Linked DNA regions of Homo sapiens. The gene in region 2 interacts genetically with the main gene of each other region. Each region holds a gene or a part of one and is shown on either strand. Other genes may lie near its edges.

Region 1 (3,651 bases), on a different chromosome or scaffold from region 2:
ACCAGCCTGAGCAACACAGAAAGACCCTTGTCTCTACAAAAATTAAAATAAAAAAATTAGCCAGGCATGGTGGCGTGCGCCTGTAGTCCCAGCTACTTAGGAAGCTGAGGTGGGAGGATGGCTGGAGCCCAGAAATTTGAGGCTTTATAAATATATAAAGCCAAGAATGTACATAAAGGCAAGAAAATCACTTGAACCTGGGAGGTAGAGGTTGCTGCGAGGCGAGATTGCACCACTGCACTCCAGCCTGGGCGACAGAGTGAGGCTCCATCTTGGAAAAAAAAATTATATATATATATTTATATATAAATATATATATACATAAATAATAACAATGGCAGTTCTAATAATAAGAGCCGCAAACACTTAGCCCCTCCTCTGCGCCAGGCACTGTTTCCAAGCACTTTTCCTATATTAACTCATCAGGTCCTCGCCACAGCCCTGCGAGGTGGGACTAGTTCTATTCCCGTTTACAGATGAGGAAACTCAGGCAGATGGAGTTAATTAACCTGCTCAAGCTCAACCTGCTAGGAAGGGTAGAGCCACGTTTGAACCCTGCAGTCTGGCCCAGGGGCTAGCACTGGGCTGCTTCTTTCTGCCTCTCCACTGTCCACACCTGTTTCAGACACTGGGCTGTGTGGGCTGTCACAGCACAAGGTGGCTGCAGTCCCTGCCCTGGGGACACCTCAGCCATCCAGCAGGGGGGCCTGGTGGCAGGGACTATGAGGAGTGACCGAACCAAGTGTGAGTTGCTCTGCGCAGGTAGAGAGGGCAGAGGCCCCGTGGCTCTGGCGGGGCACTGGCACTTGCTGATCTTTTCTGGGAAACCACTTGCTTTTGGAGACACTGAAAACTAAATCAAAAGGTTAAGAAATCCAGCTCTGTCCTCACCTGGCAGCTGTCTTCTCCCGCAGCCCTCTTTCCTACGGGTCTGCAGCTGGGGCTGGGGGGAGGTGTCGTCCCTGGCCTGTGCAGAATGTTACTCCTGTCCTCTGCCACTCCACCAGCACCCTGTCTCCTTTCTGTACCTTGCTACTCCTTCTACCATGATCTTGTCCCACTCTCCCCTCAGACTCATTCCCAGGGACATAACCTAGGCCTTGTCACCATCAAATAACTCCATCCCAAGCTTCCCACCAGCTGACCCAACCTGTGTGGATCATGCCCCCGGGACCCCAACTCCAACGATGCTGCGGCTTCCCAGGGCTTGCTCCCTTCCCTGAAGCTCAGCCAGCTTGGACCCCACATCTACCATTCCTTCCTTTGCACACACCTGAAGCCCCTACCCCTAACTGGACTGAGACAAGCACAACTCTGGTTCAGACTCCAAGTCCCTGCCAGCTCCCACTAGCACCCTGCTAAAAATCCCACCAGATGCTTAAAAGCCACCTCTAGCGGCCAGACGCGGTGGCTCATGCCTGTAATCCCAGCATTTTGGGAGGCTGAGGCGGGTGGATCACGAGGTCAGGAATTCGAGACCAGCCTGGCCAACATGGTGAAACCCCCGTCTCCACTAAAAACACAAAAATTAGCTGGGCATGGTGCATGCCTGTAATCCCAGCTACTGGGGAGGCTCAGGCAGGAGAATGGCATGAACCCAGGAGGTGGAAGTTGCAGTGAGCCGAGATCGTGCCACTGCACTCCAGCCTGGGTGACAGAGTAAGACTCTATCTCAAAAAAAAAAAAAAAAAAAAAATCCCCCTCTATCCCACCCTCTAGGGTAGCCTCCAGATCCTCCCTCACCCTTCAGTGTTTCTTCTCCATTAAAAGCAACTTCATCCTACCGGGTGCTCAAGCCAGATTCCTTGGTGTTGGCTGGGCACTGTGGCTCATGCCTGTAATCCCAGCACTTTGTGAGGCCAAGGTGGGAGGATCACTTGGGGCCAGGAGCTCAAGACCAGCCTGGCCAACATAGCAAGACCTTGTCTCTAAAATTAATAATAATTTGGCCAGGCGCGGTGGCTCACGCCTGTAATCCCAGCACTTTGGGAGGCCAAGGCGGGCGGATCACAAGGTCAGGAGATCGAGACCATCCTGGCTAACATGGTGAAACCCCATCTCTACTAAAAACACACAAAAAAATTAGCTGGGCATGGTGGCGGGAGGCTGTAGTCCGAGCTACTCTGGAGGCTGAGGCAGGAGAATGGCGTGAACCCGGGAGGCAGAGCTTGCAGTGAGCTGAGATGGTGCCACTGCACTCCAGCCTGGGCGACAGAGCAAGACTCCATGTCAAAAATAAAATAAAATAATAATAATAATAATAATAATAATTTTTTTTTTTGAGACGGAGTCTTGCTCTGTCGCCCAGGCTGGAGTGCAGTGGCACCATCTCGGCTCACTGCAAGCTCTGCCTCCCGGGTTCATGCCATTCTCCTGCCTCAGCCTCCCGAGTAGCTGGGACTATAGGCACCCACCACCACGCCCGGCTAATTTTTTGTATTTTTAGTAGAGACGGGGTTTCACCGTGTTAGCCAGGATGGTCTTGATCTCCTGACCTCGTGATCCGCCCGCCTCGGCCTCCCAAAGTGCTGGGATTACAGGCGTGAGCCACCGCGCCTGGCCTAATTTATTTTATTTTTATTTATTTTTTGTTTTTTGAGACGGACTCTTGCTCTGTCACCCAGGCTGGAGTGCAGTGGCAGGATTTCAGCTCACTGCGACCTCCACCTCCTGGGTTCAAGTGATTCTCCTGCCTCAGCCTCTCAGGTAGCTGGGATTACAGGCGCCCACCACCACATCCAGCTAATTTGTGTATTTGTAGTAGAGACAGGATTTCACCAAGTTGGCCAGGCTGTTCTTGAACTCCTGACCTCAAGTGATCTGCCTGCCTCAGCCTCCCGATGTGCTGGGATTACAGGTGTGAGCCACCACGCCCGGCCAATAATAATTTTTTTTTTGAGACGGAATCTTGCTCTGTCACCCAGGCTGGAGTGCAGTGGTGCAATCTCTGCTCACTGCAAGCTCCGCCTCCCGGGCTCACGCCATTCTCCTGCCTCAGCCTCCAGAGTAGCTGGGACTACAGGCGCCCACCACCACGCCCAGAGAATTTTTTGTATTTTTAGTGGAGACGGGGTTCACCGTGTTAGCCAGAATGGTCTCTATCTCCTGACCTCATGATCTGCCCACCTCGAACTACCAAAGTGCTGGGATTATAGGCGTGAGCCACCGCGCCCAGCCTAATAGTTTTTTTAAAATTCCTTGGCATCATCCTGACTCCTCTCTTTCCCTCGCACCCCACATCCAGTCCATCAGCAGATCCTGCCAGTTCTGCTTTAAAAATAAATCCAGGGATCAGCTACTTCTCACCACCTCCCTGGTGACTCTCTGAATGTCTAAATCTGACCATGCTGCCTCTGCTCAAATCCTTTCCAGGTTTTTACTCAAAGGCAATGCCAGAGTCCTTAGAATGACCTTCAACTTTAGGTCTCCAAATACCCTTTCCTAAACCCCCTCCCCTAGGCCCACCCTAGCCAGGAGCAGGTGTTGCCCTCGAGGCCTTACCATCTGCCCTTCTCTCTGCCTGGAACTCTCTTCCCATCATCCCTGTGGCCTTGGCTCCAGTGGTGCTTCTCACCAAGGTGAGTGCTGACCACCTCTGCTACCATCACTCCCCCCGCCCCTGTGACTCCGGATTCTCTTAACTCTTTTTTT
Region 2 (2,396 bases):
CCTCCCCGCTGTGAGCTGTACTGATAGGATTAAAGTGCCAGCCGTGAGACTTGGAGATCTGAACTTTTACTGGAAATGAGAGGGAGTCGTCTAAGATTGCGTTTGGGAGTTATGTTGGTCTTTTTTTTTTTTCTCCCTTCAGCACCAGCAGAACCAAAATCGTGTGTGGTGGCAGATCCTCCTCTTCCTGCACAACCTTGCTTTGAATGGAGAAGAGAACAGGAACGGGGCAGGCCCTAGGTGAGGGTGGGCTGCCCTCTTCACATGGGGCACCAGGAACACCGTCTGGAACAGGAAGGACATCGGGCAGGACTGACACTGTGTCTTGTGAAATTGTTTTTTTGTTGTTATTTTGTGTTTTAATTTTTTTTAATTTCTCTCTGAGTGTACATACAACATACTCAAGCGGGACCTTCTTTCTCTGTCAGGCCCTTGACCTGGAATGGGGGCCTTTGTCAAACACTGTTGAAGGAGAGGCTGATGTGTCTGTGATGGTGAGAATTCCCAAGGGCTCTGACAAGTAGATTCTTCGACTGAGGAATCTACCAGTTGTCGAAGATGATCCGTTAGTGATGTTCTCTGGGAAGTGGACTGTGGTTTTTCCAGAGGAACTCAGTTAAGAAATCGAGAGTGGATTAGACTCCCAGTTCCACCAAACCTATGAGCCTTCCACTGTGGATGGGGGCCGTGATCCTGATGGTCACATTGCTTTAACCCAGCAGGGCTTCGGCCAGGGGCTTTCCACTTGAGGATAGCAGCTTCACTAGGCTGGCCGGCCAGCTCCACATCTGACTGGGTTCTTACTTCTCAGCCAGTACCTGCCCCATGGGCTCAAGGATTCCTGGCCAGCTCCTGCCACCTCCAGCAGACCTCAGGGAGGGTTGAGTTTCTCTAAGGACCCCTCAAACATGTCGCAAAATGAACCAAACTTCTGGCTAGGCCTCAAAACTGACTTGGTCCCACTTGGAGGCCCCAGGATTGGTCCTGAGGTACAGAGCCACTGCCACCACTGGCGGCCTGGGACCAGCTGGGTGTCAGCCACGGATGAGCCGAATAGCCAGTCAGCATGTTGCTGCTGGCAGCCTGTGCCTTTGTCAGCTCTTCTTTCAAAAGACCCCACCGACAGACCGCATTCCACCCCCAACATCGGCACTGAGGGACATCGGGGGCAAGTTTGCAGTGGGGCCGGAAAATATGGTGGCCACCCTACCATGAGAGTCAGCCGTAGGGGACCCCAGACCCCTTGGTTTCCTTGGAAACAACATACCTCTTCCCCCTTATCCCCAGTCCTTTTTCATACCTAGTGGGATACAGAAGAAGCCAGGACAGTGGCTTTGCCAGCTAAGTGACTTTTAGAGTAACAGATAACGATTAGAGTGGGGAACCGTCAAAGCTGGGTACACATTTCCTATCTTCCTCCAGCTTCCAGCTAGGCCAGAAGGGCATGCTCTGGAACCCAGCAGGATCACAGCTGCCTGTGCACGTCTTCCCTTCTCTCCCTGCTGCGGCACTTATGGAGAGGATCTAAAGCAGCCGGTGTGGCAGCTCCGATAGCAGGCACAGGGAATCTGTTAACCAGACGCTAGAAACTAAATTATAACTTTTGCATATGTGAGAAAAGACAACATTGGTGCTAACAGTGAAGTAAGGCCCAAAGGAAAGACGGCTTCCCTGGACAAAGAAGACCTCAGGGCTACCCAAGGAAATAGGAGGAGTCTAGAGTAGACTCACAAATCTGAACAAGCCCAAGTCTTCCAGTTCTGAGGAGAGGAGGTCTTCAGTACTATTGAAGGAGACATTGATCTTCTGGATGTACAGTTGTGCAGGTTGTTCACTGCACAAGGGCACCTGCAGCTAATGGAGGCTGGAATTCAGCTTGTGTTCTGCTCACTAAGCTGTGTGCGTGCCCTGGTGTGGGGCTACTTCTCCCAAGAAGAAGGGGTGCCTTTCCTAATTTGCAAAGGTGCCATATGGGCTCACAGCACCCTGGAGGAGAAGGGCCTCAAACTGTGCATGTAAGCCTTTGTTTTGTTCTGCTCAGATATTCTGGATATTACCTCTTCTTGGTCAGAATTCTATTCTCAGGGTGTGTACCATGATTTGTCTGCTAAGAAGACGGGTTCCTGCTTTGCAGAGAAGGAGCCGGGGACCAGCTTGAAGACTGGCTCTGGGACACACTGACCATTGTGAAATTCAGCCTTCCCTGTGGGTCTCCATACCATTTTATGATGTGTATGGGACATACGTTGTTCTCCCCTCTCTGGATCAAGGTGGTGACAGGCAGCCTGCTGCCGTATGCTTCAGTGGCACACACCAAAAAACCGGGATTATTTACAGCAGCCACTATTCACCCCTTTTGGCAGACTCTCCACCTGAGTTCAGTGAGAGAGAAAATG
Region 3 (4,099 bases), on a different chromosome or scaffold from region 2:
AAGACTCACTGGCCAATCAAGCCCTTCCTCAATTACATCCTTCCGTTGAGACGGGATCAGAAATGGGGGAAAAAAAAAGTACACGGTTATGAGTAGTCTCTGGTTTATCTGCAGCTCTGTGACACAAGACGTAATTTTTTTTTTTTTGAGATGGAGTCTCACGTTAGCCCAGGCTGAGTGCAGTGGCACCATCTCTGCTCACTGCAATCTCCGCCTCCTGGGTTCAAGCAATTCTCCCGCCTTAGCCTCCCAAAGTGCTGGGATTACAGGCAAGTCAAATGTGTAAGAATCTTGAGCCGGGTGAGGTGGCTCACGCCTGTATTCCCAGCCATTGCACTCCAGCCTGGGCAACAAGAGCGAAACTCCGTCTCAAAAAAACAAACAAACTTACAATAACTAACATGTATGCAGCCTCTCTATCCAGCCATAGAGTACCCAAGCTGTAACAGACACTGGGGATCTACCATTTGATGCTTTTTTAAATTTTCTTTTGACAGAGAGTCTCCCTATGTGGCCCAGGCTGGAGTGCCATGGTGTGATCTCCGCTCAGTGCAACCTCTGCCTCCCAGATTCAAGCAGTTCTCCTGCCTCAGCCTCCCAAGTAGCTGGGATTACAGACACACGCCACCACGACCGGCTAATTTTTGCATTTTTAAAAGAGACTGGTTTTGCCATGTTGGCCAGGCTCGTCTCACAACTCCTGACCTCAGGTGATCCATCTCCCTCGGCCTCCCAAAGTGCTAGGATTACAAATGTGAGCCACCATGCCCAGCCTAATGCTCCTTTTTTTGAGACAGGGTCTCACTCTGTCTCCCAGGCTAGAGTGCAGTGGCATGATCAGGGTTCACTGCAGCCTCAACCCCTCCAAGCTCAGGTAGGCCTCTGAACTCAGCCTCCTGCGTAGCTAGGACCAGAGGCACATGCCACCATGCCCGGTTAATTTTTTGTATTTTTGGTAGAGACAGGGTTTTACCATGTTACCCAGTCTGGTCTAGCCCAGTCTAGTCTCCTGAGCTCAAGCAATCCTCCTGCCTCAGCCTCCCAAAGTGCTAGGATTACAGGCACGAGTCAAATGTGTGAGAATCTTAGTCTTAACATCCTTAAGACAATTAAAAAAAAAAAAAGGGCCAGGCATAGGGGCTCACGTCTGTAATCCCAGCACCTTGGGAGGCTGAGGCAGGAGTATTTAAACACTCAAGCCGGGCGGGGTGGGTCACACCTGTAATCCCAGCACTTTGGGAGGCTGAGGCGGGTGGATCGCCTGAGGTCAGGAGTTCGAGACTAGCTTGGCCAACATGGTGAAACCCCATCTCTACTAAAAATACAAAAAATTAGCTGGGCCTCGTGGTAGGCGCCTGTAATCCCAGCTACTAGGAGGCTGAGGCAGGAGAACCGTTTGAACCCAGGAGGCCGAGGTTGCAGTTAGCCGAGACGGCGCCATTGCACTCCAGCCTGGGCAACAAGAGCGAAGCTCTGTTTCAAAAAAAAACAAAAAGAAACAAAAAACACCCAAACTGTGCCATTCCTGAGAACTTATTCCAAAGGCGTGCCCAAATTAAGTAGAAATCGGGGTGAGTCTTAACTCCAGGGAGGCTACTAACTTGAGAGGGGCTTTCACCTGGCCAGAAACCTCAGGGATACATTTTGCAGAGTGAACAGAACAAACTGAGGTTCAGAGAGATGGAGTGGCCCTTCCGAGGCCACAGGGCTGGAGAGTGGAAAGAGGTTTTGGCTTGGGTTCCATAAAGGGCCCTTGGCTTCTAGCTAGACAACCCTGGCATTTCTGTGCCTCCTGGGACTGAAATCTCTGTTTCTCCACCTGGAAGATGAGGCCTCCTGCTCCCAGGGGCAGACAGATGTTAAGAACTTCCCGGCGCTAGTGCCCACCAGACTGCGCTCCTCCTAATGCGGGGACATGAGGCTGACACCAATGCTCCCTGGGAAGCTCGGGCTCCCAGACCACAGTAAACACTGCGTTAAAACAGCAACAAAAATGTTACAATAGTAAGAGCTACAACAGTAACATCAACAACCACGTCCTACCCCACGAGTGGCTCATTCTAGCAAAATTGACAATGAAGGGCTTGAAAGCGATCGCATTTAGGAGGCCAGAGCCCAGACGACGACCAGCTCCGAACCCCACAAGCCTTGTCGTGACCGCGCCCCGCAGGCGGGGGGCCCCCTCGCGGGTCACCCGCAGGGGCGCACCTCCAATTTACCAAACAAGGTCGCATGCCCCAGCCGGGCTCTAGTCCCCGCCCAGTCTGGGGCGCACCTGTGCAGGGCGCGTGGGCAAGCGAGGGCGGGCGGCTGCGCGCCGCTCCGTGTGCACGTTCCTGTTCCGGACTTTCTGGGCGTCCCGTTACGAAGCCTTTCCTCGGCCCTTCCTCAGGTGCGCAGCGCCTCCGGGAGCCGGTCCCGGCGGCACCGGGCACGACGCCATCTTCCCTCTTTTAAGGGCACCGGGGCTGTGCGGCCGCGGCCGTGGGCTGGCGTTGCCGCGCTACGGTCTGGCCGGGTCCGCACGACCCCAGAGTTCGGAGCCGGGTGCCCGGAAGCCGCACTGGAGGACTGTGCGGCGGCGATGGGGCGTCCAGCCGTCGCGGCGAGACGCAGAGGGACCACCCCATTGCACAGGCGCGGAGACTGAGGCCCGCAGGGGCCGCGCCTGGCACGATCGCCCGTCGGGGACCTGGAGCCCCGGACAGAGAGGGTACGTTTCGGAGCCGGAGTCCCGAGACGTCGCCCCGCCAGCGACTTGCTGGAGCGGTAAAACCTGGGCACGGCTCCCCACACTTCCAGCCGCTCGGCACCCGGGCCGCGGCCTGGGCGCTAACCGCCGGGCTCGAGCTGGGCGGAGCAGCGGGCGGCAGCAGGGTCGGGGGCACTCACCTGGCGGCGGCGATGCTGGCAGCGTCTGTAAGCCACCCGGGAGGCTTCGTGTCTGCGGCCCGGCTGCCGGCGCGGGACCTAATAGGCCCGGGCGCCCCGCCCCTCCCGCCCCGCCCGGGTCCCGCCCCTCCCCGGGAGCGGCCTCTCGCACCCCGAGCGCGGAATCCCGGACTGGGGTCTGAATGGCATTGGCAACAGAACCGCTACAAGTGCAGCCCGTTGGCTTGTTTACAGCCTCTCTGCCCCCTGCTGTTCTGCAAGCTTGTTTTGTCCCGTGCGTCGCTGTTTCCCCTGCGCCCAGCACGGGCGTGCACTCAGGGGTTTCCATCAATATCGGGGGGATCGATCCATTGACAGAATCTGGCCCTTTACACGGATGGCCTCCGTTCGAGCTCAAAGTACTCCTCGGTGCTTTTTTTCACGATCATTTTACCCACGTGGAAACCGAGGCTCCAAGAGGACGAAATGACTTAAATGACAGCGTGAAGCCAGCGTTCAAAGACGTGTGCTCCTTAGGCTGGCAGCTTTGGGATTTAGGTGTTTTAAAGCCTATTTCACAAATATGAAAACCGAGGTTCACATTTGGTTAGCAGCAGCATCCAGTGATCCATACCCGAAGCCAGGGGGCTGCCCCTCCACTGCCGCCCGTCCGCAGCCTTCCAGCTGCATGACACACCCACTGCCTTCCCCCTCCCGTCGGGGCTCCGGGTCCGCGAGAGGCGGGCGGGACTGGGAGGGATTGGGGGCAGGGGGCTCACGTGCAGACCTGGTGAGACGGACCCCACAGCGCCTGGCGGGGCGAACAGAGAAATCAGAAAGCTTCCAGGCGGGGTGGGCGGGTGGGCAGCCTGCTACGCGGGGATGGGTAGGACCTAACTCCAGCCCTGGGGTATATTGGGGGTGGGAGAAGGCAGAGCGCTCCTGGAATAACAAAGTAACAATTGTCCTGGGCACGGCAAAGCTTGTTTACTTCTGTCTTGATCCCCTCAGAGATTAGGGGAGGGGCAGGGACAGGGGTTCCCCTCCCCCAGCTCTGTCGTTTGCTACCTGTTGGGTACCCTCACTCTGTTCTTCCCACCTCTAGGGTAATTACTTCCCCTTCAATGTTCTCATCTGTGAAATGGACAACAGCACCTACCAAGAGCTGGGCTGTTGGGAGGAACAGAGGAGGTAAAGTGTGATAAAGTCTTCAGAGCCCCTCCCGCCT

What was found.
Region 1: changes in BMF (region 2) and BAD together harm fitness more than expected from each alone (negative genetic interaction), as found in Homo sapiens cells (one large-scale study listed by BioGRID).
Region 3: changes in BMF (region 2) and BIK together harm fitness more than expected from each alone (negative genetic interaction), as found in Homo sapiens cells (one large-scale study listed by BioGRID).

The regions. Positions count from the first base shown.
Region 1 is NC_000011.10:64,278,089-64,281,739, forward strand, and holds part of BAD (bcl2-associated agonist of cell death), read right to left. Parts: intron 1-3,651. UniProt on the Homo sapiens protein: Promotes cell death. Successfully competes for the binding to Bcl-X(L), Bcl-2 and Bcl-W, thereby affecting the level of heterodimerization of these proteins with BAX. Can reverse the death repressor activity of Bcl-X(L), but not that of Bcl-2.
Region 2 is NC_000015.10:40,089,635-40,092,030, reverse strand, and holds part of BMF (bcl-2-modifying factor), read left to right. Parts: intron 1-142; coding exon 143-244; 3' UTR 245-2,396. UniProt on the Homo sapiens protein: May play a role in apoptosis. Isoform 1 seems to be the main initiator.
Region 3 is NC_000022.11:43,109,597-43,113,695, reverse strand, and holds the start of BIK (bcl-2-interacting killer), read right to left. Parts: upstream 2,947-4,099; 5' UTR 2,893-2,946; intron 1-2,892.